Linked DNA regions of Homo sapiens: region 1 is linked to region 2. Evidence: fine-mapped expression QTL. A gene starts in region 2. The other region holds a variant in brackets. All regions are shown on one strand. Distances are from middle to middle.

Evidence for each region. PIP is the estimated chance that this variant, and not a neighbour inherited with it, causes the effect.
Region 1: its variant is the best candidate, but not a certain one, in a credible set for the expression of ZNF582-DT in kidney cortex (GTEx, PIP 0.72).

What each region holds. Positions count from the first base shown.
Region 1 is chr19:55,788,178-55,804,888 of GRCh38, forward strand. It overlaps NLRP11 (NLR family pyrin domain containing 11), which reads right to left. Exons shown (of 10, transcript NM_001394894.2): 5 at 13,395-13,562; 6 at 7,903-8,073; 7 at 4,124-4,294; 8 at 1,052-1,222; 9 at 630-800. Among named protein-coding and RNA genes, the nearest start is that of RFPL4AL1, 27 kb to the left of the region's middle. The variant G/A (reference allele first, on the strand shown) is at 6,758.
Region 2 is chr19:56,384,427-56,401,137 of GRCh38, forward strand. ZNF582-DT (ZNF582 divergent transcript) reads left to right here and starts at 9,250. Exons shown (of 2, transcript NR_037160.1): 1 at 9,250-9,627; 2 at 13,455-14,749. It overlaps ZNF582 (zinc finger protein 582), which reads right to left and starts at 9,108. Exons shown (of 5, transcript NM_001320371.4): 1 at 8,794-9,108; 2 at 7,318-7,406; 3 at 5,949-6,075; 4 at 5,575-5,670; 5 at 1-758. The coding sequence starts at 7,326. It also overlaps the pseudogene SLC25A36P1. RefSeq lists an enhancer at 1-434.

The DNA.
Region 1 (16,711 bases), 600 kb before region 2:
TTGCCTATTTTTATTCTCTCGTAATGAGGGGTACATCCAAATGGAGGAAAGAAAATAGAAAATATTCGTAGAACCCTTTTTGGTCTACGTCAAGTATAATATCAACTGTCATCTTTTACTCACCATTGAGTACATCCTCTGCTTTAAGAACGAGGCATACATTTTCAATCTCCCAAGAGGAAAGACTTTTTTTTTTTTTTTGTATTGGAAACTGGCAAGAGGGTTTCTCATCATCATCTTATAGGTCCTAGACCATCTCAACACAGAATTTTCCCCATCACAGCCAGGCGCGGTGGCTCACGCCTATAATCCCAGCACTTCGGGAGGCCAAGGTGGACAGATCATGAGGTCAGGAGATTGAGACCACCCTGGCCAACATGGTGAAACCCCGTCTCTACTAAAAATAGAAAAAATTAGCCAGGTGTGGTGGTGGGTGCCTGTAGTCCCAGCTACTCAGGAGGCTGAGGAAGGAGAATCGCTTGAAGCTGGGAGGCTGATGTTGCAATGAGCCAAGATCACGCCACTGCACTCCAGCCTGGGCAACAGAGTGAGACTCTGTCTCTCAAAAAAAAAAAAAAAAAAAAAAAAAAAAGAATTTTCCCCATCACCAAGGAAAATAAGCAACTTACCCAACTACCTTAAGTACACAATCTGGGCTGATCAAGCTCTCAAGAAGTTTTGCAACTCCATCATTGCCCAAGTGATTTTGAAGCAAGTTGAGTCTTTCTAGTGTTTTGTTGGTGGTAAGAACAGAGGCAAGAGATCGACAGCAGGCACTGGTTAACATGCACTCTTCTAGCCTGCAACGAAGATGCACAGGTAAGGTGGGGCCAAATCCTTGAGGAAAAATGGCAGATGAGATGGGTGAGAACTGGACATCTACTAGATCCCTCCAAGTTTTGGGCAAAAGAACTGACTGTGCAATAAGAGTCCCATTTCAAACACTAGACTATTATGTCCGAGGTATTGTATTTCCCAATCCACTTCCTCTTGTGCTTTTCTTCAGCTGTTGCTAGCTAAAGGCAGGGATCTTTCTCCACCAGGCACCTACCCAATATTCACCAACATGCAGTTGGGATGTCTCAAACCACCACATAGCAGCTGCATTCCTGCATCTTCTATTTTGTTGCTCCCAATCTCCAGGCTCCTCAGTTTTTCATTAGTAGCAATAACTATGGCAATATATTGACAGATATCGCTGCTAAAGAAACAGCCAGACAGACTGCAAAACAGAAACATGAGCTAGAGTCATGACCACCTGTCTCCAAAGATTTATTTCACAGAGTGTTAAGCATTCTTGGACCCGTCTTGTGACATTCATGAATAAGGGACTGCTTACAGAAACAAGAGCAGTGTTAACATCTACAGGTCACTTACAACATACCAGGCATTGTTCAAAACTCCTAATGCACATTAAACTCACAATGATCACAGGGCTCTTATCCTGGTTTTACAAACAAGGAAACTGAGGCCAGAATGTTTTAAGCATTTTTGTCCCGGGAAGCCACATACATTCAACCTACACCGTTGCAATACTGAGCTTGGATTCTGAAGAATTATGTTAGGCAACCTCCTCTGACATTCACGTTTCTGCCTTTCAGTACTCATGTCAAAATCCAACATCGAGAAGGGCTAAATACATTCTTTCTATAAAGAGGATTTTACCAAATGGTCCTTTCTCAAAGCAAGCAACGTACTCACGATTGTCCGTGTTCTCCCATGTGACCTGCCACCTTGTTTTTCCATTCACGTCTCCCCCATTATCTACTCCTACAATCCTACTTCATTGCCTCACCACGTTGGCCTTCGTGTTGATTCTCGAGCACAGTTGGCTGTTTCTCTGTTAACAGCTCTGCACCGACTATTCATTCTGCTTGCAAGCGCCACTCTAGTGATCTGTATGACTCCATCCACAACCTTCTCCAAGTCTTTGCTCAAATGTCCCCTTGTCAATGAGGTGACATTGACCTTGCTTAGAGATGGCCATACCCTACCCTCAGCACTCCTGATTACGTGCCCTTAGGATTGAATTAAAAAAGTTTCCATAGCAGTTTTTACTGCCTGATACAGGAGTTGACGGCCTTTCTCTATAAGGGGCCAGATAATAGTTTAGGCTTCACCGGCCATGGTGCCTCTGTCACAACTACTCAGTTTTGCCACTGCAGCACAAATGCATGCATGAAACACATGTAGATGAATGGCTGTGTTCCAGTAAGATCTTTATAAAACCAGGCAGAGGGCCAGATTTGGCGCCTGGGTGATACAGTTTGCTGACCTCTGGTCTAACAATACATAAGTTTCTTATGTTTTATTTCCTATCTCCCCCAGTGCCAATACAAGATCCATTAATACATGGATATTTATTCTGTTCACTGATGTATCCCAGCCACCTAGAGGAGTGCCTGACACTTAACATATATTCTTTGTTATAGAATGTATATTAAATACTGAATAATCATATTAAAGCAGATTCCAGAAGATCCTATTTTTCATTTAGTAGTTATAAAAGTTGGGTGGTGCATTCCTGTAGTCCTAGCTACTCAGGAGGCTGAGACAGAAGGATCACTTGAGCCCAGCAGTCTGAGACTGGCCCGGGCAATATAGCAAAACCCTGTCGGTAAAATATATAGAGAGTTAATGATGTGCCAACCACATCCATGCTTTCAAACTTAGAGGAAAATAAAGGGTGATCAATAATGTGGGCTTCCATGTGCCCTATGGGAGCTCATAGAGGAGGTCCCTATCCAGCTTTGGGTAGGTGATAGACAAAATGGACAGTTATACTTAAGACAATTCTTGAAGGATGACAAAAGAACGTGTTTGGAGTCTACAGCAAGGTTCAAACTATGGTCTGAGAGCCAAATCTAGACAACTTTGTTTTTTATTTATAAAGTTTTATTGGAACATAGCCACACCCATTTGACATTTTTCATGGCCTCTCTTCAGCTATGGGAGACTTAAAAATAGTTATGACAGGGACATTATGGCCCACAAAGCCCAGAGTATTTACTGTCTAGCCTGTTATAGAAAAAGGTTTCTAACCCCTATTCTACAGTATGAGTGAATTTGTCTCAACCTACTAAGTACAAACTAAGGGCCATGAAAAAAAGGGAGGGTGAGTTATATTATTTTCCCCAAGGCAGCTTTCCCTAAACTGCCTTGTCAAAGGAAGCAAGATTCTAGAAAGAAAAGATATCCCTACAATTTCCTATTTTACCTGCCCATTTGTACCAAATTACAATGGTAACATGGATTTAACTTATAACTACAAGACAGAAATAAAGATAAGATACCATACTGCTGAGCATATTCTTATACAGTCCAGTAAGCACTTCAGTTCAGGAGCTCACAAGCCATAGTGTTGCTATTTTATGAACAGGAGATGCTTTTAGGTTATCAGTTTCTTATATTTCTGAGCCCAAAAAAAGGCATTTGAAATAGAACATTTTCAAGAGAGTTCAAATTAAACAACTCCAAGGCATTTTTTAAACAATTTTTTTTTCAGGCAAGTGGGAGAATCACTACTTCTGAGAAAATACGAGAAGTTTGATTATTCAGCATCATTGATGAGGCACACTCAAAAAACTGTAGTGGCTTGTTACATATTTTTTCCTGGAAGTTCAATCAGAGGCCATTGCATCATGCCTAAATTAGATGTCTTTGGTAGGTACCAGTGGCTTGGATATGGCCACCTCCCCCAATGCATCCCTTTTCCAATAAAGCTATTTCCCAACAGAAAGATGCCCCCATGATCGCCAACCCCAAAAGATATTCACTGCCTCAGAAATTGCAAGCCAGGCCAGGGCAGGATCTTTGGGTCCCTTCTCCTGTGGCATTTTCCCATGCTATGTCCACCCGGGGCAGGGGGAGGGGTCCGGCCCAGGCACCCTTCTCCATGTGATAAGGATCTGAGGGATTTTGTGAACTCTGCTCCTTCTGAGCTAAAAGGTTTTGCCAATGAATCTTACCGTGCTTTCATGTCGCCTATTCTGGGGAGCCCATGCTCCCGTACCCCTATCACCCATGATGCCATCACTGGAATCTTATCCCTGCCACCAACCCCACCACCCAAGCCCTCATGCAGTAGAAACACAGTCATCCAGGACAACTGTGGGAGACTTACTGAAGCTCCTCTAACTGACAGGTTGGAAACAGCAAGGGAAACGTCACATGCAACACTCCGTAATTTTTTAAGCGATTCACACACAGGTCTAGTTGTCTTAGAGTTGGGCTGAACAGAAGCACTCTTCCAAGGGCGCTGCAGCAATTTTCAGTGAGACAGCAGAAGACTAACCTGCACACAGAGAAGAGTGAGTCAGTGACAGTGTGAGCACCAGAGAGGGGAGCACCTGAGACCACCCACCCCACGCCCACGGGCGCCTCGATGCCTTCTACTGCCATTGCCCCAAATCTCTACCAATGACTTTCTTATTTGGAAAAGGAGATTAGAAGTACCCCAAATAGTGCAGAGGCTGAAATACAGAATGGATGATGCAGAACAGGGCATGAGAAAAATCTAACTCCAACTTCTACTAACGGAATAATCTTATAGACGTTACTTCTGGAACTTGGTTTCTCCCATCGTTTGATAAAGTATATTTGGCTAAATTGAATCCTAGGATTTTCAGTTTAAAAACTCACTTTGAAAGAGTTACTTTATTATTTATAAGTGAATACAGGAACTGTTGAAGATTTTTTTAAACTGGGAAAAAGTGGAGACAGACGGCACACCAGAAGCCCTGTTGTTAGCCCATTTTGTGGTATCCCGTTTTGTCTGTCCAGGTTTAGCTCGTTGCCAATATGTGGAAGTTTACTCAATCCTAATCTGGATTTCCAGCCTCTATTTTTTTTTCCATTATTTATTTTTAAATAATTTTTAAAAATAGAGATGGGGGTCTCACTGTGTTGCCCAGGCTGGTCTTGAACTCCTGGGCTCAAGTGATCCGCCTGCCTTGGCCTCCCAAAGTGCCGGAATTATAGGCGTGAGCCACCACACCCGGCCGAATCTCTATTTTTTTTAACCCGTTTTCTGTTTGCCCTGGGAATACTGCACTGGCAGTGAGCTGCACTTTTTTCCTAAACAGGGAAGGGGTTAAAAAGTTGGAAATAGGCCGGGCACGGTGGTTCACACCTGTAATCCTGGCACCTTGGGAGGGGGAGACAGGAAGATCACCTGAGTTCAGGACTTCGAGACTAGCCTGGTCAACATGGTGAAACCCCGTCTCTGCTAAAAATACAAAAATTAGCCGGCATAGTGGTGTGCACCTGTAGTCCCAACTACTTGGGAGGCTGAGGCAGGAGAACTGCCTGAACCGGAGAGGTGGAGGTTGAAGTGAGCCGAGATTGCACCACTGCACTCCAGCCTGGGTGACTGTCTCCAAAAAAAAAAAAAAAAAAAAAAAAAAAAAAAGTTGAAAACAACCAATTTATTGGTTGGAAATACTGAATCTTGGCTCTGGTATGGGAAAAGGGTACACTAGACCAGAGGCTGGCAGCACACCAAACCTGGCCCCTCCCTGCTTTTGCACAGCTGCAAGCTTAGAATGATTTTTGTGCTTTAAAATGATCGGAAAATGTATATGTAGTTATTTTAATTTGGGTTTGACACGTGAAATGGGCTAGGTTTTCCTTTGTATACTAATGCGTGCTTATTTTAAATTATATGTACAAGTAAAAGTTAAGACTAAGAATGAGCTAGAGAAGTTCCCTGTTGTCCTCGTAGAAACCAGCACTATCAACTCATTTGCATACTATTTTCCAGCTGTCAGATTTGGTCACGACCATAAATTTGGCCTTTTACAGGTGTTTTCCTCAGACTACTGTGATTTCTTTCACGTTCTTAGGCTTAGAAATTCCTTGCCTATTTAAAATAAGTTACCAAAACAAATATTTTTTGCTTAGTATATCTGGATTATTTTAAATACAGGTATGAACTACGAAAAACTCCATGCCAACAATCTAAGGTGATAAAAATGTTCTAAAATTATATTGTAGTGTTGTACAACTCTAAATATGCATAAAAAACATCGAATGTGTACCTTAAGTGGATGAATTTTCTGATATGTAAATTATACCTGGAACCAGTGGGAAAAGAAAAAAAGAAAAAATCTAGCAGGAAACAAAAAACTTGTAGATATGAGATGAAAAAAATATCTATTTGGAGTCTGATTATTGAACCAATGGTCTGTCCCTTTTTTCATGAGACCTTCTTTTACAACAAAATTAGCTCATATTGACAATTACTTACTGGATTTATCTGGGGCCACATGGATCTTAGAACAATTTGAGATTTTAAAGACATGGCTGGACACAGTGGCTCACATCTGTAATCCCAGCACCTTGGGAGGCTGAAGTGGGTGGATCACGAGGTCAGGAGATCGAGACCATCCTGGCTGACACGGTGAAACCCCGTCTCTACTAAAAATACAAAAAATTAGCCAGGCGTGGTGGCGGGTGCCTGTGGTCCCAGCTACTCGGGAGGCTGAGGCAGGAGAATGGCGTGAACCCGGGAGGCGGAGCTTGCAGTGAGCCGAGATCGCGCCACCGCACTCCAGCCTGGGCAATACAGCGAGACTCCGTCTCAAAAAAAAAAAATAAATAAAAGCATACATAATGCGATATTACATAATATGAACAGGAGTTTCTGGTGTTATCCTGCAATCAAACAAGTATTTTTTACAGAAAATATAAAGAATATAAAGAATATTATATCAGTTTGTATTATGTTTTGGAATCTAGCAAGTCCTAAAAAGGGGGC[G/A]AAAGGAGCTAAAGGGAGCCAAAAATGGGCGAAACAAAAAAACAAGATGACCTACTGCATTCTTTTGTCTTTTTGGAATTTGGAATTGTGAACGGGGAATCATGTCCTTAAATACACCGAGCTACTTACTGTTTTGTTTTCTGACCATGTTTTACAGATCTCCGCCCTTCATTTTTGTACCTTTATGCCTCACTTTTGCCACTTTTTTGCCATCTTTCATCGTGTTTGCCATGCCCCAACCTTCCGGAAGTCTGCCTTTCTAGCCACTTTCCCAGAGCAGACAGAGCTTACCTACGAGTAACCCACAGTCGGTTACATACAGGGAGAGCCCGTCTTCCACCTTCTTGAAAGGAGACTCAGGGGAAAAAATCCTATTTCAAGGCAATCTAGCACCAAACCTTTCCTTTGCTTTCGTCTTTGTGTTCTCAGTCACATCTCATCCTACACGACACCCAGTTCACGTGTTCACTGTGAGAACAATATAGGTTCCCTGCTCTTAGAAAGTCAGTTGCTATGGCCTAGGTGCTGTGTTTAGAATGTTGTGACCACCATTTTTTATTTTTTATTTTTTTTGAGACAGAGCCTCGCTCTGTCACCCAGGCTGGAGTGCAGTGGCACAATCTCGGTTCACTGCAACCTCCGCCTCCCGGGTTCAAGCAAGTCTCTTGCCTCAGCCTCTCAAGCAGCTGGGACTACAGGTACCCGCCACCACGCCCGGCTAATTTTTGTATTTTTAGTAGAGACAGGGTTTCACTGTGTTGGCCAGGCTGGTCTTGAACTCCTGACCTTGTGATCCGCCTGCCTCGGCCTCCCAAAGTACTGGAATTACAGGCGTGAGCCACCGCGTCCGGCCGTGACCACCATTTTTAACTCTTATCTCCAAAGATGTATGTTTGGTCATGTTATGACTCCACTGTCCAGATTGAGAAATACAAGTTGAAAAAAAATCCAGAAACATTTTTGCCAACGTTTCGCAAATCAGCTGTCAACCCAGAGTATTAACCCAGACCTACTGAACTCCAAAGACTGTGCTTTCGGCTGCTTTGCTTTGCTGTCCCTTTCCCCACCACTGCTCTTTGATCATGTGCTTAGATATTCAAGTCAGTCTGAGCTTCTACGTGGTGAGCTCGTCTAAGCCAACTTACACCAGTGATATAAGAGTGCAGTTGGGATGAAGCAAGGCATCACACAGTATGTTCATCCCGTCGCTCCTCAGCGGATTGCTGGATAAGGTCAGTTTTCTCAGACTCCCGCCACTGATGAGGAGAGAGGCGATTTCTTCACATTCGCTGGCTCGCAAATCACATTTCATCAAGCTGTAAGAGGAATTCAGAAATGAAAAGAGGCTCCCGCGTTTAAGCTATCCCCTCTTTTAAATTAAAAAAAAAAAAAAAGAGAGACCTAACCAAGTGCGATGATGTCTACTTGGAAATAAATAGATCCCTTTGCTTCTAACCTTTCTTCTCCCTATGCCACTCCTCAGAGTTCAAATTTGGGCAAGGTTACAGATTCACGAAGGGCTGTGAGCAGGCAGTTCCTTCCTCTTTTGCATTCATCTCCATGTGGTTTCCAGGGTGATGGTTCAGAACGGTAAGTCAGGTATCAAGCATCCCACCTGACCATGGGATGTGGGTACGATCACATTTATAAATCTGATCAAGACCCTCAACTTACCATCACATTTACAAGGACTTCTGATGTTTTTTCTGCATAGCCTTGGGTGCCCCACATGCTCTGGCTCTCAACTATCTCTATTTTCTTTTTTTTTTTGAGATGGAGTCTTGCTCTGTCGCCCAGGCTGGAGTGCAATGGTGCGATCTCGGCTCACTGCAACCTCTGCCTCCCGGGTTTTTAAGCGATTCTCCTGCCTCGGCCTCCCGAGTAGCTGGGATTACAGGCATGCGTTACCACACCCGGCTAATGTTTGTATTTTTAGTAGACACCAGGTTTCACCATGTTGGCCAGGCTGGTCTTGAACTCCCGGCCTCAGGGGATCCACCCGCCTCGGCCTCCCAAAGTGCTGCGATTACAGGCATGAGCCACTGTGTCCGGTCTAACTTTCTATTCATTACTCATTCTGTACCATCCTCCCTGATCTCCTCACTCTCCCTCAAGTCCACAAGCATATTTTTGCTTTAGTGTCTAGTACCCTTATCTCTACTTAGTGATTTTCCCCATGGGACCCTATTTTTTAAAAAAAGTTTTTTTCCTTAAATTATCCAGGAGTGGTGGTGCACGACTATAGTCCCAGCTACTTGGGAGACTGAGGTGGGCGGATCACTTGAACTCAGGAGTTCGAGGCTGCAGTGAGCTATGATCATACCAATGCACTTCAGCCTGGACAACTGAGCAAGACGCATCTCTAAAAAAAAATAAATAAAATAAGTAGAATAAAAATAAGTGATCTTTCCCCAGATAGCTGCATGGTTTGCTGTCTCACTTTCTTCAACTTGTCACTCAATATTCTCTTCTTCAATGAGGATTTTGAATAATAACCATCTTTCAACTAACAAATATTGTTATTTTCAGGCATTGTATGAAGTTCCTGGGATACAGCAGAAAACTGGAAGAAATACGATGGAATTCTAGCATTGTAAAGACAGGGCTGAATGTATCATGTGCCTAGTAGATGATCAGTTCTTTATAGAAAGTAAATCAGAGTAGGTCATAGAGAAAGAAAAGGATGTATTCTACTTCCTTATGGGGCAGGCACTGAGCGAAGACTCTCACTGAGCCATCGTACTTGGCCTGTGTATTCTATTTTGAATGAAATGGAAGCCCTTGAGGGTTTGAAGATTAGAGGACAGAAGAGTCAGAAGCTCTGACTTAAATAAGGTAGAAGAATTTTAACAGAAACTTGAGAGAAGAGGGCAAGCTCTGAATCTCTAGGACAAGGGAATTTCTGTCAGAGGAAATGAGTGGAAAGAGTCAGAAGCAGGAGCAGGTTTGGTGTTTTAAACATCTACAACAAACAGTGCAGCCGCAGCACGGTACATAAACAGGAGATGGGGAGAGGGTTAGCCAGGGCCACCCAGCGTGAAATGGTGTATTCTATATTATTATTATTTTTTTTTTTTTTGAGATGGAGTTTTGCCCTTGTCACCCAGGCTGGTGGAGTGCAATGGTGTGATCTCGGCTCACCGCAACCTCCGCCTCCCAGGTTCAAGTGATTCTCCTGCCTGAGACTCCCGAGTAGCTGGGATTACAGGCATGCGCCATCATACTTGGATAATTTTGCATTTTTAGTAGAGACGAGGTTTCGCCATGTTGGTCAGGCTGTCTGGAACGCCTTACCTCAGGTGATCTGCCCGCCTCGGCCTCCCAAAGTGTTGGGATTCCAGGCGTGAGCCGTCGCGTTGGCCTGTGTATTCTATTTGGAATGAAAGTGAAAGCCGTTGAGGGCCTGAAGATTAAAAGGACAGAGTCACAAGATCTGACTTAGATTGCCATTATCCTTAGCAAACTAACATAAGGACAGAAAACCAAATACCACATGTTCTCACTTACAGATGGGAGCTAAATGATGAGAACACATGGACACATAGAGGGGAACAATACACACTGGGGCCGACTTGAGGGCTGAGATTCAGAGGATAGGATCAGAAAAAATAAAAATATCTATGAGGTACTAGGCTTAGTACGTGGGTGATGAAATAATCTGCACTAACTCCCATGACACAAGTTTACCTGTGTAACAAACCTGAACACGCATCCCTGAAGCTAAAAGTAAACTAAAAAGAGTTAAGTCTACCCTTGTAGTAAAACTGATATATCAAAAAATAAAGCTATGTTTTGCTTCAAACACACACACACACACTCACACACACACACACACCGGAAAACAAAACAATCCAAACTAGATGAAAGTTGCCCTTCTACACTCTTTTCCATGTAGCAAGCAAAGGTGTGGACAGGTAGGAAGATGCTGAAGTACTGCAGATAGGTGGGAGATGGGTTGGTCTATCATGCTTAGCAGTAAAGGAAGCAGGAAGGAGTCAGATGGATCCACTCTAACAACAGACCTAGAAAATTTGTCTAAGCCAGGCCACAAGAAAATCTGTATTTGAAATGCCTATTTAAATATCAAAGTAAGAGGCTGAGGTGGGCAGATCACGTGAGGTCAGGAGTTTGAGACCAGCCTAGCTGACATGGCAAAACCCTGTCTCTACCAAAAATATAAAAGTTAGCTGGGTGTGGTGGTGTACCCCTGTGGTCCCAGCTACTTGGGAGGGTGAGGCATGAAAATTGCTTGAACCCGGGAGGCAGAGGTTGAAGTGAGCCGAGATCACCCCACTGGACTCCAGCCTAGGTGACAGCAAGACTTTGTCTCATAAATAAATATCAAAGTTGATATCTCTACAAATACTTCACTGAGTCTGAAACCAGGAGAAATGTTTGTAAATAAGTACCTAAGAGTCTTCATCACATAGAGGCTACTTAATGCCATGAATAAGAACTCATAGAAGGGGTATAGAAAAGACATTTAGAACCACTTGGAAATATCCCAAAGATAAGAGTCCAGGAAGATGAAAAACAAGTAAAGATGACTGAGGAGGAATAATCAAGGTTTGGGAAAAACCAAAGGCCAAGAGGAAAATGTGTTCCAAGATGAAAGGAGTTTGGGGAGGGGGGCATTGAGGTAGGGGAGAGGCTAACTACAAAGTGGCAACAGAGTTGGGATTTAGCTGGGAGAATGTGATAGGGAGAAGGGATGCTGAGTGAGGTGGAAGGCAATGACTCTCAAGAACCATGGAATTTGAACTATGTCAGAAAGAAAGTGAGGGGCTGGGTGCAGTGGCTTCCAGCACTTTGGGAGGCTGAGGTGGGTGGGAGACCAGCCTGGCCAACATGGTGAAACCCCATCTCTACTAAAAACACAAAAATTAGCCATACGTGGTGGCAAGCTCTTGTAATGCCAGCTACTCGGGAGGCTGAGGCAGGAGAATCGCTTAAACCCGGGAGGCGGAGGTTTTAGTGAGCTGAGATCACACCACTGCACTCCAGCCAGGGCAAAAAGAGTGAAACTCTGTCTCAAAACAAAAATGAAAACAAAAACAAAAAGAAAGGGATGAAGGGGGTGAAAGGGTGGGAAGCTGCTGCTCAAATGGCTGAAGGACGCAGTAGGATTAAAGGGTGGGAAGATTTGCTTACAAGACAAAGCAGCTTGAGAATACAGGAGGTGCCGTTAGAGCATGAGGTACTTGAAATTGAGAGTACAAGCGAAATGTACTTATTGGAGATGAAGTCTAGCAAGTGGTATTATCCAATATTGAGTCACCAGCAAGTAGAGCTACTGAGCACTCAAAGCGTGGCTAGCATGACTGAGGCACTGGATTGTTAGTTTTACTACATTTACATTGGAATTTATTATTCATTTATTTATTTATTGAGATGGAGTTTTGCTCTTGTTGCCCAGGCTGGAACGTGCAGCGGCGCCATCTCAGCTCACTGCAACATCTGCCTCCTGGGTTCAAGCGATTATCTTGCTTCACCCTCTCGCATAGCTGGGATTACAGGCACCTGCTACCATGCCTGGCTAATTTTTGTATTTTTAGTAGAGGTAGAGTTTCACTATGTTGGCCAGGCTGGTCTCGAACTCTTGAATTCCTGACCTCAAGTGATCCACATCCTCTGCCTCCCAAAGCGCTGGGATTATAGGCATGAGCTACCAGGCTTGGCTAGTTTAAATTTAAAGGTTGATTCCAAATTATTGGAAGATTTAAGTATGTTTAGGACACGGGCATGTGAATTAGTTCTCTCAATTGTAAATTTTATGAAATCAATACGGAGGTCAAACATTTCTGATGAAAATGTGCCCGAGCGGCGATGTTCTCTGTGAAATACTGGGTTCTGCAGCCTTTTACAAAAAAGGGAATATAAAATCACATCAATAGCTTTTTGCATTAATGACATATGGATATAATTTGATATGCTGGGTTAAATACTGTTAAAATTAGTTTCAAGGCTGGGCACAGTGGCTCACACCTGTAATCTCAGCACTTTGGGAGGCTGAGGCCTGTGGATCACCTGAGGTTGGGAGTTTGAGACAAGCCTGACCAACATGGAGAAACCCTGTCTCTACTAAATATACAAAATTAGCTGGGCATGGTGGCACATACCTGAAATCCCAGCTACTTGGGAGGCTGAGGCAAAAGAATCACTTGAACCTGGAAGTCAGAGGTTGCGGTGAGCTGAGACTGTGCCACTGCACTCTAGCCTGGGCAACAAGGGCGAAACTCCATCTCAAAAAAAAAAAAAAAATTAGTTTCACTTGCTTCCTTTTACTTTTTAATGTGGCTACTGGAAAATTTCAGTTTGTGGCTTGAATAATTTCCACTAGACAGTGTTTTAGGGTTTGACCAGTAGTCTACTTCAGAATGACCAGAGGAATTAGATCATTAGAGAAATATCAGTCAAGGGAGGGAGAAGCCATGTTATATGAAATATCAATGTAGAAATTGAAATCAAAAGGCAGGAATAATGTTGGTGAAAGAAACAAACCACGTGCTAAAAAAATTGAGGAATGAGTGACATCAAAAGGTAGGAGCAGGTAGTGTTATTGAAGGGGCACCTCTATCCACCAACACCCAGGCATTCCCCTCACATGCACTGAGCTTTCAGCCGAGCAACAACTCACCTCAGATGACTTATTTGGCATGTGGGCTCGTGCAGGATGTCATGCAGAAGTGAAAACATATTTAGGGAAATGGACGTACAGTTGATACTCAGGTATGTCAGGCTCCGATTACGAGCCAAAGCCTTGAGTAAGTCTTCAAAACCAGAAGCAGTCGAGACATAGGACAACCTGTGGAAGACATAATAGCAGGAAAGCACTAGTGAAGGTCTGAACATCTTCTCCACAATTTCTCCTGCCTGCCTCACTTCATCCTGTAACAAAGATTCTCAGTGGATTACATCCTCACACATGGCTCTCGATCTTAAATTTCTAGTCAGGTCAGAAGACTATTGCTAATTCCAAGGTCAGCCTGTTGACTTTGAAGTAATCCCCTGGGTCTTTATGGTGTGTTCACCTCATGACCTTTCTTAAGTGGGACCCACAAGCCGGATACTAAGAATACATCCACATGCACAAAGATATTAAGATACATCCACATGCACAAGTTTAACCATGTTTTTCTACACTGAGAGCAAAAGACAAAATATGCTGATGGCTGATAATAGCCACACAATCAACCACATGTAAATTACTCCGTTTCAGCAGTCCCAGCCAGAGCAATCAGGCAAGAGGAAGAAATAAATGGCATCCAAATAGGAAGAGAAGAAGTCAAACTATCACTGTTTGCAGATGACATGATTCCATATCCAGAAAACCCCATAGTCTCAGCCCCAAATCTTCAGCTGATAAACTGCAAAAGTTTCAGGATACAAAAAGAAAAAAATAAAATCAATGTACAAAAATCACTAGCATTCCTATACACCAACGACAGCCAAGCTGAGAGCCAAATCGGAAATGTAATTCTATCCACAATTGCTCACAAAGAATACCTAGGAATACAGCTAACCAGAGAGGTGAAAGATCAAAAGGAGAATTACAAAACACTGCTCAAAGAGATCAGATGACACAAACAAATGGAAAAAACATTCCATGCTCATGGAGAGAAGAATCAATATTGTTAAAATGGCCATACTGCCCAAAGCAATTTACAGATTCAATGCTATTCCTATGAAATTACCAATGGCATTCTTCACAGAAACTAGAAGAACTATTTAAAGTTCATATAGAACAAAAAAAGAGCCCCAATACCCAAGACAATCAATCCTAAGCAAAAAGAACAAAGCTGGAGGCATCACGCTACCTGATTTCCAACTATACTATAGGGCTATGATAACCAAAACAGCATGGTACTGGTACAAAAACAGACACATAGACCAACAGAACAGAATAGAGAACCCAGAAATGAGGCCACACAACTACAACCGTCTGATCTTCAACAAAGCTGACAAAGACAAGCAGTGGAGAAAAGACTCCCTTTTCAATAAATGGTGCTGGGGTAACTGGCTAGTCATATGCAGAAGACTGAAACTGAATGCCTTCTTCACACCACATACAAAAACCAACTCAAGATGGATTACAGACAAAATGAAGTGCAAAACTATTAAAAACTTGGAGGCGCTGGGCACAGTGACTCATGCCTGTAATCCCAGCACTTTGGGAGACTCAGATGGGCAGATCACAAGGTCAGGAGTTCAAGACCAGCCTGGCCAACATAGTGAAACCCTGCCTCTACTAAAAACACAAAAATTAGCTGGGCGTGGTGGCGGGTGCCTGTAGTCTCAACTACTTGGGAGGCTGAGGCAGGAGAAGCACTTGAACCTGGGAGGCGGAGGTTGCAGTGAGCCGAGATCATGCCACTGTACTGGGGAACAGAGCAAGATTCCGTTATAAAAACAAAAACAAACAAAACAAAACAAAAACTAGGCAATACCATTCTGGACATAGGAATGGGCAAAGATTTCATCATGAAGATACCAAGAACAATTGCAACAAAAGCAAAAAATGACAAATGGGAAGTAATTAAACAGAAGTGCTTCTGTACAGCAAAAGAAACTATCAGAGCAAACAGTCAACCTGCAGAATGGGAGAAAACCTTTGCAAACAATGCATCTGACAAACGTCTAATACCCGCATCTATAAGGAACTTAAATTTACAAGAAAAAGATAACCTCATTAAAAAGTGGGCAAAGGGTATAACAGACAGTTTTCAGAAGGTGACATACATGCAGACAACAAGCATATGAAAACAAGCTCAATGTCACTGATCATTAGAGAAAAGCAAATCAAAACCACGAGATACCATCTTACACCAGTCAGAATGGCTACGATTTAAGAATCAAAAAATAACAGGCTGGGCGTGGAGGCTCATGCCTGTAATCCTAGCACTTTGGGAGGCCAAGGTGGGTGGATCACTTGAGGTCAGGAGTTTGAAACCAGTCTGGCCAACATGGTGAAACCCCGTCTCTACCAAAAATACAAAAAATTAGCCAGCTTGGTGGTGCATGTCTGTAATCCCAGCTACTCAGGAGGCTGAGGCAGAACAATCACTTGAACCTGGGAAGTGGAGGTTGCAGTGAGCCGAGATTGTGCCACTGCACCCTAGCCTGGGTGACAGAGCAAGACTCCACCTCGAAAAACAAATTATGTATATATATATATGTGTGTGTGTGTATAAATAAAACAGATGCTGGCAAGGATGTTCCCACTGTTGGTGGGAGTGTAAATTAATTCGACCATTGCGGAAAGCAGTGTAGTGATTCCTCAAAGAGCTAAAAGCAGAACTACCATTTGACCCAGCAATCCCATTACTGGGTATATACCCAAAGGAATACAAGTTATTCTACCAAAAAGATACATGCACATGAATGTTCAATGCAGCACTATTCACAATAGCAAAGACATGCAATCAACCTAATGCCTAGCAACAAGATTGGATAAACGTGATACATATATACCATGGAATACTATGCAGCCATAAAAAAGAGAGCATTTTTTTTTTTTGGCGGGGGCAGGAATATGGAGTTGGAGGCCATTATCCTTAGCAAACTATCACAGGAACAGAACCAAATACTGCATGTTCTCGCTTGTAAGAGGGAGCTAAATGATGAGAACTCATGGACCTGAAGAGGAGAACAACAGACACTGAGGTGTACTTGAGGGGAGGAGGGAGAGGATCAGGAAAAAATAAATGAGTACTAGGCTTAGTAGCTGGGCGTACAGTCTTATAGTCTATATACAAAATATGTACGTCAAACCTGTGACACAAGTTTACCTACATAAACAAACTTGCACATGTACCACTGAACCTGAAGTTAAAAAAATAACAATTCACGGCTGGGTGCGGTGGCTCACCCCTGTAATCTCAGCACTTTGGGAGGCCGAGACAGGTGGATCACGAGGTCAAGAAATCGAGACCATCCTGGCTAACATAGTGAAAC
Region 2 (16,711 bases):
CTGATGTTGAATCAACTGAGAACGATGACTAAAGGTTTTCCCACATTCCTTGCATGCATAGGGTTTTTCACCAGTATGAATTCTATAATGTACTTTAAGATGTGAGATCCGATTGAAGGCCTTGCCACATTCCTTACACTGATAGGGTTTCTCGCCTGTGTGAGTTCGCTGATGTTCAATCAACTGTGAGCTTCGACTAAAGGCCTTCTCACAATCTTTACATTCATACGGTTTCTCACCAGTATGAACTCTCTGATGTTGTATAAAATTTGAACCAGAATTGAAGGCCTTTCCACATTCCTTACATTCATATGGTTTCTTACCAGAATGAATATTCTCATGTTGAATTAGTCGTGAGCCATATTTAAAGGCCTTCCCACATTCCTTACATTTATAGGGTTTCTCATTAGTATAAATTCCTTGATGATTAATAAGGAGTTCCTTTTGCCAGAAGTCTTTTCTACATTTATTATACCCAAAAGGTTTTTCTCTAGTATGAATTTTCTGATAAAAAGTAAGGGATGCATGCTGGTCAAAAGTGGGCATTTCTTCATGTCTGATGATCATCTGATGGAAATGTCTGTCTGGATTTCCCTGTTGTCTGTCAAACTGGTTTCTGCATTCCCAATCATCTTGGAAACTTGAACACTCAAGACCATAACTTGTAAGGCTTTCCATTATCTCCCATTGGGGTGATTCGACTTCATAAACATGCTGCTTTGGAAATAATTCCTTGGTATCATATCTGGACTCCAATACTAAGAATGAAAAAAAGCGAATATGTTTGGCTTCTTTTTTTTTCCAGATAAAGGAACTAAAATAAGAACTGGAGGGTTTAGACTCAATGCCTATTAACTCTTGAATGTAGCTAAGCAATTATAAAATGGACAAGTAGAACAGTGAAAGGAAAATAACATACATGAGATGAGGGAGGCAATAAGAGAGGTTATAAAAGTGATTCTAAAATGTTAGTGTGGGGCTGGGCATGGTGGCTCATGCCTGTAATCCCAGTGCTTTGGGAAGCCAAGAAGGGAGAATCACTTGAGGCCAGGAGTTTGAGACCAGCTTCAGCAACACAGCAAGACCCCATGTCTACAAAATAATTTTTAAAAATTAGCCAGCTGCAGTGGCACATGCCTGTAGTCCCAGCTGAGAAAAGAAGACTGCTTAAGCCCAGGAGTTAGAGGCTGTAGAGAGCTATGATCACGCCAATGCACTCCAACTTGGGTGACAGAGGGAGACTTTAAAAAAAAAAAAAAAAGAGTTGGTGTGGGTCAGAATCACTATTGAACAATATTTTTTAAGACAGTAAATGTTTCTGTGAGACTCTAGAAAAGACAAATATAGAGTGACAGAAACCAAAGCAAATCATTGGTTTGACGGACTGTGCAGGAGGGAGCACAAGGGAACTTTTTGGGTTGATGGAAATGTTCGCTATCTTGATTGAGGTGATGGTTATGTGGGTGTATAAATTTGTCAACACTCATTAATAGCACATTTTAAAAATGCATTTTATTGACCATAAATTATGCCCCCAAAAGAGTGAATTTTAAAAAGATGATGGGGATTTCAAGATGAAAAGAGTTCCGGAGATGGACGGTGATGATGGTTGTACAACAGTGTGAATGTACTTAACACTACTGAACTGTACACTTGAAAATGGTGAGCACGGTAAATCTTGTATTTTACCACAGTTTTAAAAAATAAAAATAAAAGTGGTGTTGGAAGTGTGTGGTTGGATCTGCAACCTGCCTCAGTGCCTGGAGGACATGCAGGAGAATGAACCAGAGGAATATGCTGGTACAGTGGCAGCTATTCTCATGTGTCCGCTAGAAGTTAGAATGACATGGCTGCTGTCTTCCTCTGTGAAGCTTTTTATATCTGAAGTTTAGCTGAACACCATGGTGTTTTTTATATCTGAAGTTTAGTTGAACGCCATGGCTGAAGCCCATTATCAACTGAATGACATTTCTTAAATTTCTTAAATGTCATGCATTTACCTGAACCTTTTCATTTCTTAAAGGTGACCTTGGAAAAAGAAGGGCTTTTTTCCTTGTTTAGAGGATTAGGCCAGTTGATTGAGGGTGGGTCCTTCTAGAGCAACATACTTTGCTGATTATTCAAACTGCATGAAAAAGCTGAATGCTATAATGGACTGTGATTCTACCTGGTACATTATTTCAGCTACAGTGGCAGGTTTTACTGTACTTATAGCAACCAACCCCAGTTGACTTAAAGAGACTCAGATATAGCTTGACTACAGGTGGGCACCACCATGCTCAGCTAATTTTTGTGCTTTTTTGTAAAGATGGGGTTTCGCCATATTGCCCAGGCTGGTCTCAAACTCCTGGGCTCAAGCAATCCGCCTGCCTTGGCCTCCCAAAGTGCTGGGATTACAGGCGTGAGCCACCATCCCCAGCCTCAAAGTACTTTTTGCTGAGAATTTGATTCTGTCCTAATTTGCTGAATCATACATCATAGATTCAAGGTGATGTGCTAACAAGGATATCATTTTTAAATGTTGCCATGAAGTTCAAATGCACCTTTTCATACTTTAAATTGATATATGTATATAACCCTTAAACGTTTATGTTCATGATAATTCTGTTGAGACTTCTGGCTAAGGATGTTGCTATACTGGTATATAAAATGTGCACAATTAAACTCCAGTGTGATACTACTCATTTCAGTATATATGAGTGCTGTATTTTGTGCAGTAGCTTTATCTTAATATGGCTCTTTGTGAATGCACTTTATAGCATTTATTGAGGGTGAAAGAGCAGGAGGGAATTCTATGTTACGTATTTCTATAAAAACATTGGTCATTTATTCAACAGAACCAGTATTCCTAACATTTGTCTGGGTTTTAGATATGTTGTTCTGCAGATCTATTCACTGTAGTGATCCCAACATTATTGAAAATTACCAAGCTTTTACTGCTCTCACCAGTGAAAAACTGTACCTTCTTAAATTCTGTCAGCATGTCACATTTATTGTAATCAACAGTAACTGGATGTTTCTGAGGTGTTTTGATTGGACTCAAAAGTATTACAATCAGTTTGGAGACAAAAACACAATCTGCATTTTAGTTTAAGTATGACACTGATGACTTAAAAAAAAACTATATACAAACGTTCTATATAAAGTTTGCCTCCAAAGTATTTCTCTTTCTCTTTCTTTTTTGCAGGGGAGATGGGGTCTCATTCTGTTGCCCAGGCTGGAGTGCAGAGGCACAATCATATTATACTACAACCTCAAACTCCTAGGCTCAGGTGATTCTCCTCTGTCAGCCTTCTGAGTAGCTGGGACTACAGGCATGAGTTATTACGCCTGGCTGCAGAGGGATTTTAATATGTAAAAGTATTAACACAGTGTATTAACTTTGTGCCCACGCAAATCTCTTTTCTATCACATCCTTATGTTCTTCGACAGATTGACTTTTATGCTTCTCCTTTTAGAAACATAAAATTGTTTTATTCTTAGTTTTAAAAAACATTTGAATGTGTACCCTTGCTTATGCGAAGATTTATGACCTACTAGTCATAGCTAAATAGTCAACATTGTAAGAGCTGATACTTTTTGGTTCATGTGAGGTTTGGCATTCTTGCATTTATGTACACGGATGTCAATTGTGTGGACTTCTTCTGTATTTATGTTAACTAGCTTTTACTGAATTGTTGAAACTAAAAAAGTTAAAAACGTGCTTATAAAAAAAGGGGGGGGGGATTATGTCCAAAGAACCCAGGAGCCAGTTTGAAAGGGTGTCACTGGGCAAGTCTGGAAAACTATGAACGTTGTGATAAATAATGATAATGGGTAATAATCTGTTACAGGATAAAACAAGATTTATTTTATTCTGACCTGGAAATGAGAAAAAATATGCCACCTACTATTAATCCATATGATATAAATGAAGAAACAAATGGTGAAAGGGAGAAAGCTCTTCTTTACAGGAGTATGTGATCTAATAAATAAGAATAAAGTTTTTTTAAAAATCACTATTTTGTAACTATTAATCATATCTGATCCAAGAGAAAACTATCAATGACTTCTGAAACTAGCAGGTGAATAATTTGTGAGAAGCACAATATTTATATCCTCTCCAGGTGGACCATAAAATCATGGCTTGCCTCTATTTCTACAGTGCTTTCCCTCTGCCCACAGTGCAGAACCCAAACTTCATAACGTGGTTGCCTTTCCTAGCGTATCTTTTTTTTTCTTTTTGAGACAGAGTCTCTCTCTGTTGCCCCAGCTGGAGCGCAGTGGTTCGATCTCGGATCACTGCAATCTCCGCCTCCCGTGTTCAAGCGATTCTCCTGCTTCAGCCTCCCAAGTAGCTGGGATTATAGGCACGTGCCACCACACCCGGCTAATTTTTGTGATTTTAGTCGGGACGAGGTTTCACCATGTTGGCCAGACTGGTCAAGTGATTTGGCCGCCTCAGCCTCCCAAAGTGCTGGGATTATAAGCATGAGCCACCATGCCCGGCCCCTAGTGTATCTCTGTGTTCCTCCCTTTGCTCACTGACCTCAGCCACAAGGGCCATCCATTATCTCAGAGGTACCAAGGGCTCCCTGCTCAGGTCCTTCACACTCATTGGCTACAACTGGTATTCCCCAGCTACATCACACCTTCCATGTCTCAGCTGAAATGCCTTATCCTTGAAGAGGCCATTGGCCCTACCATGCACCCTGACTGAACCTGTTCTTTTTCTTTCACATATTAGCTCATGTCCAGTGTGTATGATTTCATGTCTATTTTCCCACTGCAGTGTAAGTTCCATGAAAGCAAGGATAATGTCCACCTGCCTCATCAATGTATACTGTGGCATATTCCATGGTGCATAATAAAAGCTTAATAAGTACTTGTTAACTGACTCCAGAATTCAAACAAACCGATACAAATTCCTTTAGAAAAATGGTCAAAGGACAAGATCATGTCCTTTGCAGGGACATGGATGGAGCTGGAAGCCATTATCCTAAGCAAACTAACACAGGAACGGAAAACCAAATACTGCATGTTCTCACTTATAAGTGGGAGCTAAATGAGGACACATGGACACACAGAGCGGGACAACACACATGGGCCTTTCAGAGAATGGAAGGTTGGGCGGAGGGAGAGAATCAGGAACAGTAACTAATGAGTACTAGGCTTAATACCTGGGTGATGAAATAATCTGTAAACAAACCCCCATGACACAAGTTTACCTATTTAACAAACCTGCACTTATACTCCTGAAGTTAAAAAAAATTTTAAATATTAAAATTAAAATTAATAAAAAAAGAAAAATGGTCAAAAGATACAGACATCTTTCCAAAGACAAAATACTTTCCTTAGGAACCACCATATTTGTACTCAGTCTAGCCCTATAATCCAGGTTGAATTTTTAAAGTGTTTCAGGAGGAAGGAGCAGCCACCTTTGTCAAATGCTGCTGACGAGCTGAGGAAAACAACACGTAAGACATAAGCTTTGAAGGTAGCAACCTGCAGGGAAGATCTTCTAAGACAAAGGGCCACTTCCAGCGGACCTGATACCTGCAGTGGCTGCTCCCTTCCCAATGATACCTCACTCACCTGGACACAGGCCTCCAGACACCACTCTCTCCACCATCCAGGGCTCTTTGCCTTGCTCTAGGAAGGAGATCACATCAGGTTTGGAAACGGCAAGACCTGGAGATGAGAAGAAACATGCCACCTGGTTATGGTGTGGGGGCCCCAGAATTCAGATCCAGGACCTGGTCATCAAGCAGGAGAGGCAGTTGCAGGAAGTGCCAGAGGAAGATGGGACAGTTGCCTGGGGGTAGGGGGATGCAGCTTCAGCCGACAGCGCCGCCCTTTAACCCCTCAAAAATGACCAACCAATCATAAGACTGAAAAGCACCCAAAAACTGACCAGGAAGGAACATGCCCAAGGATAACCTCCAAACTAACAGACGAGATCACCTTACCCAGTGAGACCAGGTTGCTGTAGGTCTCCAACATCACGTCTCTGTACAAATCCCTCTGAGCAGGTGCCAACCACTGCCATTCTTCTTGGGAGAAGACTATGGCCACATCCCTGAACAATTCTGACCCCTGGAATGACAGGCATGTATGATATATATGTATTTCAATGGTTCACAGTGGGATGAAAGGAGATGGGGCAGGTCTTTGCGGGAGGGGGGGTTGTTTTGTTGAACAAGAAGGGTGGGACTGAATGTGAAAGGTGACAGAAGAAATGGGGATGAGTAAAACAGAATGATCAAATTGTTCTCAAACATTCCTTTTAACTGCAAATCAATGCTCTGTGTACAGGTCTGGGATGAAAATTAAAATCAAGCTAAATGGAGTTTTCCTTATTGTTAAGAAACAGTGTAATAAAGCACACTGCCCACTCTATACTTGGCATACAATAAATTCTCAAGGTGAGACCTATCACTTCTATCTTTTGGAATAACAATAACAACAAAAAATATTTCTGATGGATTTTCCCCAAATATTTTATTTTTTAAAATTATGGAAACATGTTTTCTATCTTAGATACAGGATTTTCATGTAAGTCAAGAATTTCTTGGAGATGAAAGTTCATCATTATGTTGGAACATAACACAAGCATTTTTCTTCATGGGAAAAACCATGGAGATAACTTTTATTGAGTGCACAATTTTCTATCAAGTGAAACAACTGACTCAAACATCCTCTTATTTTGGATCCCGAGGTTGGATCAGATCTCTAAGGCTTTTCCAAGCCCTGACCACTCACCCACCTAGATGATCATCTCACTTGCTACATCGCTCACCATCCTCAGCTCTGTACTTTTCTTCCTCTTAAGCTAAAGAAACTAATGGAGGATGTCCCAGATTCAAATGCTCTGTCCAACGTCAAACTAGACTTTAATTCTGGCATCAAATTTTTGATGGATTCCCAGCCAAACCTCAATTACATATCCAATCATTAATCATTCCCAAAGCAGGACACTGTACCATGCGCTGAAACTGAAACCAACCAACACCACCTCCCCTGCTTTTCTATATGTGATTGCTCCTAAGCATTCATTCCATCTCTTCAAACTTCAGTTCTTACAAAGGATGCTCTCATTTCATACAGGGAAATGAGTTTCTCCTCCTAGCAGACGAAAACCATCAGGAGATGCAGAATGCTATAGAGAATAAATCTGTGGGCATTTGTCAGAGGGGAGAGGACAATGGGAGAGGAGACTCCTGCCTGGTCCTTTTATTCCCTAAAATGGGAAAGTCTGAGAACCAAATTTCTGGATGGAACCCAGGTGGAAAGTTTCAAGATAAGGAAAGCAAATATTTATGGGATTTAAAAACTCACAAGGGACATGACTTTTAGAATTTCAAGGGCTGATAGGTCCTCCTTCTGGTTCCTCTCTTGGGGAAGGGCAGAGTCCTGCGACGGTAGAGCTGGGGGAGGAAAGAGCAAACATGAGAGGCTAGGCTTGCCTCACAGTTCCTAGAATGCCAAGTTACAAGTCCCCACCTGCTTGCCCTCTGCCCACCAAGAAAATGAGAAGGAGGGGGAGGCAAAGGGATCCTCACCCAACCCCAGGAAACCAGCTTTAGCTGCTGCAAGGCAAAGGGGAACCAGTGGTCCTTTCCCTCCCATTTCCCCTAAACATCCAGTGGTTCTGTTTTGCTGCAAATGCAAGTCTAAGACAGGGATGCTGAGGGCTGTTCTAGTGACTGAGACCCACATGTTACCTCAAGGACAAGGAGGGCTTCCCTCAAGCCAGGGAGCATAGAAGGCCTGCATCATTTGCATAGCCCCAGCCTAGAATAAAGCCTTTCCAGGACTAGGCCATTTAACTCTCTCCTGCAGCAAATATAACACCTTTGAAAGTCTACCTGGCTCTTTTCCCAACCGCCAAATATACAAAAAGCTCTACAGCCCAAACTGAGGCTTTGTGCATGCCACTTCATGGAGCATGCCTTGCATCAACAAATGGGATAGAGTTGGAAGGAACAGTAAGAGACAAATTACACACAGCACGCCCAGTGCTCCATTATCAGCACATAAATGTGTCCTTCCATAGAGACACAGCAGTGCACAAAGCTGCATGTCCAATAATATTTGCTAAATAGGAGAACTGAAAATTAGTACGTAAGTAGGCAAGTCCACAAGTAGCCAAGAGGTTGAATCATTTTTGGCACAGCCATATAATGGGATGCCAAGTGACTATCAAAAATGACTATCAAAAACTGACAAGCAAAGATATTAACTACTGAATCCTTTGAGAACATTCAGCAAAAAGAAGTCAAACTCACTAACACACAGGCTAAAAACAAAACAAAACAAAAAAATTGGAAGAAAAAACACCCAAGTATTCGCAGTGTTGTCATTTAACCAGTTCTTGAGCTCACTGTTAAACAAGAAGTACTCTGTAAAGGAGTATATAAGGTGCCTACTGCATTACAAACATTTGGTTCTAAGTAACGTGTAAGTGAAATAATTATGAATGTTGCTTAATATGATGTAATAGGCAGCTTTTCCTTATTATGACCACTTTTATAAGCATTATTTGTATTAACTGCACGATATCCTATTTACAAAGGATGGCCTGTGATCCACTCAAGTGTTTCCCCATTGCTGGACATAGAATTTGAACATATAAAATGTTCCCAAGTATAAGTTTTTCTAAACTAGCGGTTCTAAGTCTTCTGGGGTCTTGTAACTCTCTGAGAACCTCATGAAACAAGATTTCCTCTCAGATTAAAAAAAAAAAAAGGCACGCATAACAGTGAATGCAAAACATCCGCAATTTCAGGGGGTCGGAGACCCCTGCGCACCCACCTAAGGGGTCCATGCACCTGGGCTATGAGGCTGGAAGCAGAAAGGGGGCGCCAGAAAGCGCACGCCGCGAGGGCCGGCGGGAAATGTAGTCTCACGCCGGTAAAGCCACAGAGCGACGATGAGGCGAGACGTCTGCGTTCTTCTCAGGCCTGAGACCCAACCGGCCCGGGCACCAGCTCCTGCTGGACCCCAGAGCGCCTGGAAAGCTCCGGAACCTCTCACCTGCCGCCTCCTCGGGTCCAAGTGCCACCGCGGCCGCGCCCCCGGCAGCCCAGGGCGCGCTTCCACCACGGTACCGGTGGATTCGCCGTGCGCAGCCGGAAGATGGCGCAGACGCACAAAGCACACCGATGCTGCGCCATGATAGGGCCGGCGCCGCAGTGTCTTCCGGGAAACATAGTCTTTAGGCGTAAAGGCAGCAGCCCGGCCTTGAAGCCGGATCTCGCGATGTTTCAGGGTGAGCCGGACGCAGGCGTGCCTGCGCAGTGCGCGGAGGAGTGCTGTTCGTGTGTTCGAGTCCCTGGGTTGCTTCCTGGGGTCTGTGGTGCTGGGTGTGCTATCTGCGTGTGATTCTCTAGCGAGAGATTGTGGGCGAGTGACCGAGTGGGCAAGGGGCCGTCACTGTGTGTGCGTGATTTTGACAGTGTGTGGTGGTAGCTTCTGACTCCGCGTGGGTCGTTGAATGTATGACTGGGACCGTTTAGCGGTGGATACACAACTGTGTGCGGCTGTGGAAGATTGCCTCATCCGTTACGTTCCCATTTCCGTGGAACAACAGTTTTACCAGAAGGTTTCGAAGGAACCTTAAAGTTTGGAAGCGTAAGAGTTTATCTGGTAACTAATTTTAAACATTACATCTATGGTGAGTTAAATGTGGGTTATGAAGGAGAACGCAAAATAAAAACGTTATAAAGATGTAAAGGAGTTTTATGGGGCGGCATCTCTTGGGCAAATATCAGACCGCCGTAGGTAGTTGTTAATTCTCTCTTGTTTTTAGGCGGCTTTGGTGTCATCAAATGTGAGAAGCCCTGGACTTTACACATCCCGAGCCAGTGTGATCCAGTATGATTGGGAGTCCGAGTGCCAGATGCCGGTCAGGACCTGTTATGCTGGGTCTCAGAATGCGGAAACTCTCCCTGTCCGAGGTGGAACAGTTTGTCCTTGAGTGAGGACTGGAGTCCTGAGTGACTCTTTTGATTTGATCCTGTTTCCCTCAAACCTGGTGAGCTCTATGGTGTAATAAATGGTTAAGAGTGTGAACCCTTAACCATCTCTAAGACTGGAGCCAGAATGCCTGAACTCCAGTCTTAGAGATGTGCCTCGGTCTCCACATTTGAAAGTGAGGATGATTGTGGCATCTAATTCATTGAGTTGTTGGGGAGGAGTAACTGATATGTAAAATAATGCTACTGCTGCTGGATAAGGATGCTAATATGACTGAAGCTAATGCTTTCTTTCTGCAAAGATGCTTTTTCCAAAACACACCATATTGCCTCTTTACACATTCTTCAGGAGAGGGTAGAGGCTGCATTTTCCTTGTAGGTGCGGTGATGTGGTGGAAAGCACACTTTTAGAATTAGACAGATGTGGATTCAAATAGCATTTCAGCCATTTATTAGTTTCTTCGTGCCTATCTCGGTTTTGTTTTGTTTTTTTTTTTTTGTCCATAAAAGGAAGAATGTAATGCTGGGCTTGCAGCTTTGTCCTGAGGGTCAAATAAAATGATTTAATAATATAAGCAAAGCTCAGAGGTTGGTTATTGCTGATTACTGATATTAAAAGACAACTTCAGCAAGGATGGTTGAATTTCACACTTGTGAGCGGACAGTTGAGGAGACAGTTGTAGATTTATCCTACTTGACCTTATTTGTGGTTCAAGACAGTGTTGCGAGTTCAAGAGGAGAGGGTAGATGCAAAAAGTCATCATCTTTCCTATGTTCTCTGATCTTGGGAAGGGGCGAGTGGCTCTAGTTTCCCTTTAACATCCCACTGTGTTGAGTGTGTCTATATGTACATGCGTCAGTATTTGCTTATGGAGGAAAGGAAGGAAAAAGACCAAACAGGTACAAAGCCAGCCATCTCTCAGGCTAACTTTCTTCTATACCATTTTTACTTTCTCACATTCATTAATCTGCCAAAGAGAAATTTAGAGGATGATGAAATGGCCACTTCTGACTCTGAACCAAGCCTCTGAAGTCATACACCATTATACTCTTGGTCACAAAATCAGCTGTGAGTCTAAGTAGGTGGAGGCTACACAAGAGTATAAGTACTAGGAGGCAGGGATCATTCAGGGTCGTCTTAGAGGGTGGCTTCCAGTTTCTTCCTTTTAAGAGTATGAGAATGCTCTGAGCTAGCCTCTCCATTCCATGGAATCCATAGGTCTTTTGTCAGCCACTTCCCAGTACACATTCCTGTGCCAAAGCACATGCAGAGTTTGTAGGGTCCAGCCCCACAGGGTCGGTTGGTTTCTCCCCGTGTGCGGAGACGAGAGATTGTAGAAATAAAGACGCAAGACAGAGATAAAAGAAAAGACAGCTGGGCCCAGGGGACCACTACCACCAAGACGCGGAGACTGGTAGTGGCCCCGAATGCCAGGCTGCGCTGATATTTATTGGATACAAGACAAAGGGGCAGGATAAGGAGTGTGAGCCATCTCCAATGATAGGTAAGGCCACATGGGTCACATGTCCACTGGACAGGGGGCCCTTTCCTGCCTGGCAGCCGAGGCAGAGAGAGAGAGGAGAAAGAGAGAGAGAGCTTACACCATTATTTCTACTTATTAGAGACTTAGTACTTTCACTGGTTTGCTACTGCTAACTAAACGGCAGAGCCAGGTGTACAGGATGGAACATGAAGGTGGACTAGGAGCGTGACCACTGAAGCACAGCATCACAGGGAGACGGTTAGGCCTCCGGATAACTGCAGGTGGGCCTGAGGCCCTCCACAAGTGGTGGAGGAGTAGAGTCTTCTCTAAACTCCCCCGGGGAAAGGGAGACTCCCTTTCCCGGTCCGCTACGTAGCAGGTGTTTTTCCTTGACACTAACACTACTGCTAGACCACGGTCCGCTTGGCAACGGGCATCTTCCCAGATGCTGGCATCACCGCTAGACCAAGGAGCCCTCTGGTGGCCCTGTCTGGGCATAACAGAAGGCTCGCACTCTTGTCTTCTGGTCACTTCTCACTATGTCTCCTCAGCTCCTATCTCTATATGGCCTGGCTTTTCCCAGGTTATGATTATAGAGTGAGGATTATTATAATTTGGAATAAAGAGTAATTGCTACCAACTAATGATTAATGATATTCATATATAATCATATCTAAGATCTATATCTGGTATAACTATTCTTGTTTTATATTTTATTATACTGGAACAGCTCGTGTCCTCGGTCTCTTGCCTTGGCACCTGGGTGGCTTGCCGCCCACAGAGTTACTCCAGCAGCTCCCTCTCCTGTTATCCCCAGCCATATCCGTGCTTCTGCCAGATTCCTTCTGTTTCAGGATCACCCATTATCACTTGAATGAGATCAACTGTGGGGAGGTGGGCCATATTCTGTTGTGCATAGTAATCCAAGCAAGGAATCACACAACAAAGTGGGTTCTAACCCAATCTTAGCTACTTACTCCCTGAGTGACCTTGGGCACCTCCCCCAATTTTTCTGACCTAAAATCTGTGCATTATAATAATAATAAATTTCCACGGAGGAAGTATAACCTTTTCAACAAACAGTGCTGGAGCAACTGGACATCCATAGCCAAAAAAGAAAAAGGATAAAAGGCTTTTCTGCAGTACTAATCCAGGAGAAAAATAAATGTATTGCATCTTCCTTGTGACAACTGAGGACAAAATACATGTGGCCTCTCTCTGAGGACTTTTTTTTTTAAGAGACAAGGTCTCACTCTGTCACCCAAGCTGGTGTGCAGTGGTGTTCCTGGACTGAACTGAAGGTCAGGCTGCTTATTCTCGCAGCCCTATAACAAGATGCTGATGAACTGTGAAAGAAGAGAGTTTTATTTCTGTAACCGGGTACAGGGAGAGGGCCAGAAAAATATTGCCAGACCAACTCAAAATTACAAAGTTTTCCAGTGCTTATCTACCTTCTAAGCTATATGTCTACATGTTAGTGTGCATTCATCTAAAGACACAAGTGATTAATTTCTTCTAATCTATAACTAAGGTCTGAGTTATAGACCTTGGGGACATTCCTCTGGAGCCTCAGTGATTTTACTTACTCTAGATGGGTCCAAGTGCCAAAGGTAATTACCTTATCTTGTCTCCTACTAAGTTATGGAGGTCTGGAGAGTTCCTTTAGACCCCCAATAAAACTTGTTTAATCCTAAATGGATCCTGGTATGAGGAGTGTGACCATTCCTTCATTATTTTGTCATGCTTCAAATCATCAGCCTTTGTGTTAGGGCGCTGGCTCTCTCAGCCTTTAATATTTAACCTAACCATTTAGTCAATGCTAGAACAGTTCTTATGGAGGCCTGCCTGTTCAGTTTTTGTGAGATCTGGCTTGCCACAGTGGCACAAACGGCTTACTGCAGCCTCAACTTCCTGGGCTTAAGCGATCCTCCTACCTCAGCCTCCCAAGTAGCTGAGAACACAGGTGCGTACCACCACACCAGCTAATTTTTCTTTTCTTTTTTTTTTTCTGTAGAGATGGGAGCCTCACTGTATTGCCCAGGCTGGTCTTGAACTCCGGAGCTCAAGTGATCGTCTTGCTTCAGCCTTGCAAAATGATGGTGAAGCTGCATCATTGTCTGGGGTAAATACCTGAGGTTCGTTGTCTCACGCCAAGGGAATCAAGGACGTGGACACACAAGAAGTGAGTTTAAGAGCGGAGGTTTAATAGGCGAAAGAGAAAAGAGAATAGCTCTAGCTCCTGCAGAGAGAAAAGGGCTCCCAAGTAGGACTTCCAGTCCGTGGCGAAGGGCACGGGGTTTATAGACTGGCTTCAGGAGGTGGTGTCTGATTTACGTAGGCCCCAAAGATTGGTTGGACCAGGTGTGCCAATCAGAAGCTGGCTGCCCCACCCTAATCTTTTATTATGCAGATGGAGTCCCTGTCTGACCGGGCCATGTTGTATGTTCCTTGCTGTACACGTGGTTGACAAAGAAAAGGGAAGATGGAGCTGCGATGTTGGACATGCCTGGCCCCCAGGTAGCTTTTTCCTATTGGCACAGCTGCTGGCATTCACCCGTGCAAACTTCCAGCTTGCTTATCTATGTCTGCAGCTTGATTTTTCAGGCTGCTGTTTGTTAGAAAAGAAATGACTTGGGGGCTGCTTTTCATTAAAAGGAAAACCTTACCGGGGATTTCCTTACCCTCACTATCTGCCTAAATAATTTCTTTTTAACTCCTATGTCACTTGGGATTACAGGCATGAGCCGCTGTGCCTGCTAGAGGGTTTTTTATCTTTATTCCTCAAGATTTTGCATTTAGATAATTATGTTAAACTTGGGTGTGCTAGGTAGACATACGTCTGCTGATTACCTGTTTAGGAAGAATGTGGATTCGTACGTAGGGAAAAGGAGTCAGGCTGGTGGGACCAGGGGAAAGCAAAGAGATAAAGCAAATAAGCTATAGATCTGCATTTTCTTCATGGTCCAGGATATATAAACAAAAAAAGGAAGCAGATAAGCTATAGGCTTGCTTTTCTTTATGACCCAGGACATACAGCCCTGCCGAGCAAATAATGAACGTAACTCACAAACTTCCTGCTTATCATCAAACGCACGCATCCACTTATCATCAAACACCTCGGGTGACAGAAGAATGCAGGTCAGCTCCCTGCTGCCTTGGCATTATCAATCAGCCCAGGAACCATCCTATAAAATCTCCAGCAAGCCTTTGTTTCCTTGCAGTCAGCTCCTCTTCCACTGATTCTGCCTGTTGCTCCCTGATAACATACTTTGATACTGTCTTTAATAAATCTGCCTTTCTTCACCCACAGCTGTCTTGGTAAGTTCTTTTACCTCTGTGCCACCAGCCCAAACAGTTGCTGCTCACCTGAAACAAAGAATAAATGTGGTTTTTAAGCAAATCAAAGTTTACTTAGTGACTCTTACCAAGCTTTGTAGAAGGTTGTGCCAAAAGGAGAAGCTTAAGAGATAACGGCTAAAAATAAAAAATGTTACCACCGCCCAAGGGGTTCTTCCTGCCCACTGCATAAAGAAAGACCATGGCATTGTAGTAGAGAAAGAGGTTAATAGACATGAGGCTGGCCACGCCACATGGGAAATGGAGTTCGTACTCAAATCATCTAATCCAAAGCTCTTATCTTAGAGGTTTTTCAAAGTCACTTTGGGGGAAGGGGTGGGAGTGGCCAGATAACAGGTGCTTGCTGCTGATTCGTTGGGCTGGAGATGAAATCATAGGGGGTCAAAGCTCTCCTTGTGTGGGGTGAATTGCTTCTGGGTGGTGCCACAGGAACTGGGTTGGTTAGTCCAAGTGGAACCATCAGGTCCAGGTGGAGCCATGGGTGTCAGACATGAAAAAACCTGAAAAGATATCTCAAAAGGCCAATCTGAGGTTCTACAGTAGTGATGTCATTTGTAGTAGTAATTGGGAAAGTTGCATATCCTATAACCTTTGGAATAATGGCTGACAGTTGAATAATGCTGCCACCTTAGCAGGACCCAGACTCCTCTCCTCCCAGACTGATGGCCTCCCATTAGCTTTACAAAAACAATTGAGTTTTGGGCAAAGCCTGTTATTTAAACTATAGCGTAAATGTCTTCCAAAGTTAGCTCAGCCCTATAGCCCAGGAATAATTAAGGGAAAGGCAAGATAGGTGGGTTAGCTCAGTTTACTATAATAATTTTTCTCACTGATACAGTTTTTGCAAAGGTGGTTTCATAAAGATGCCTACTCTCTTCACACATTTGTGAAATGTCGAAAAGACTGCAAAAACCTGGACGTTTACTGATGCCTTATTTTAAACAAGGCTTGTCTGGTTTGAAAAAGTGAGGGGAAGCTATCAATCATAATTTTGTTAAATACAGTGAGTTCTAAGTTTCTCCTCAAAGAATCTGTGTCAGTATGTTCAGTTCTTTGTTTTCCATTTTAAAGTTTAACTTCCTCATTCTCTTCATCTCCTTGCCCCTAGTTTCAGTAAACAACCTCCCTGCCAGTTCTGATCAGTAGTTCACATCTGTTCTCCTGGTCACTTGCTCCATCCTGAGACCCCTGGTCACCCGCTCTAACCTAAGTCACCTTTAGTCACCTATTCCGTAACCGTCTTTCCTGCCACAACTGCTCACCCCACCACTGTAGCTCTTAACCCCTGCTGTCTTTAAAATAGCCAATCGGAATTAGCTTAGACTGTGCAGTCCAACCCTAGCCAATAGGGGAACGATGCAACAGTAGGGGCTACCTGTGTCAGGGATAAGAACCCCTTCCCCTCCCTTGTTCAGGTGTGCTCTCACCATTGTTCCATCCACAAGATGCACCCTTCTGTAGAAGTAAAATTGCCTTGCTGAGAAAATTTCTGTTCGAATGCTATTTCTTTTGTGGCACCGAAAATTTATTTCTAACAATTTCAACACTCAAACACAACCCAACTACAATTTTTGTGGATTATGTTCCTTTTACTTTTTAGGAACAGTTTTCCAATGTTGCAGTCATAATGCAATTTTATCAGCTTTGTTCCTCCTTTAAGAAACCTTAATACAAGAAGTATTTTTACATGTTGCTTCATTGCCATGCAATTATTCGTTTAAAAAGTTGTATAGTTTTCAATCAGATAGATGTGAAAGGAAAATAAATCCCAGGACTCCGGTTGGGCACAGTGGCTCATGCCTGTGATTCCAGCACTTTGGGAGGCCGAGGCGGGTGGATCACGAGGTCAGGAGATCGAGACCAGCCTGGCCAACATGGTAAACCCCGTCTCTACTAAAGATTAAAAAAAAAAAA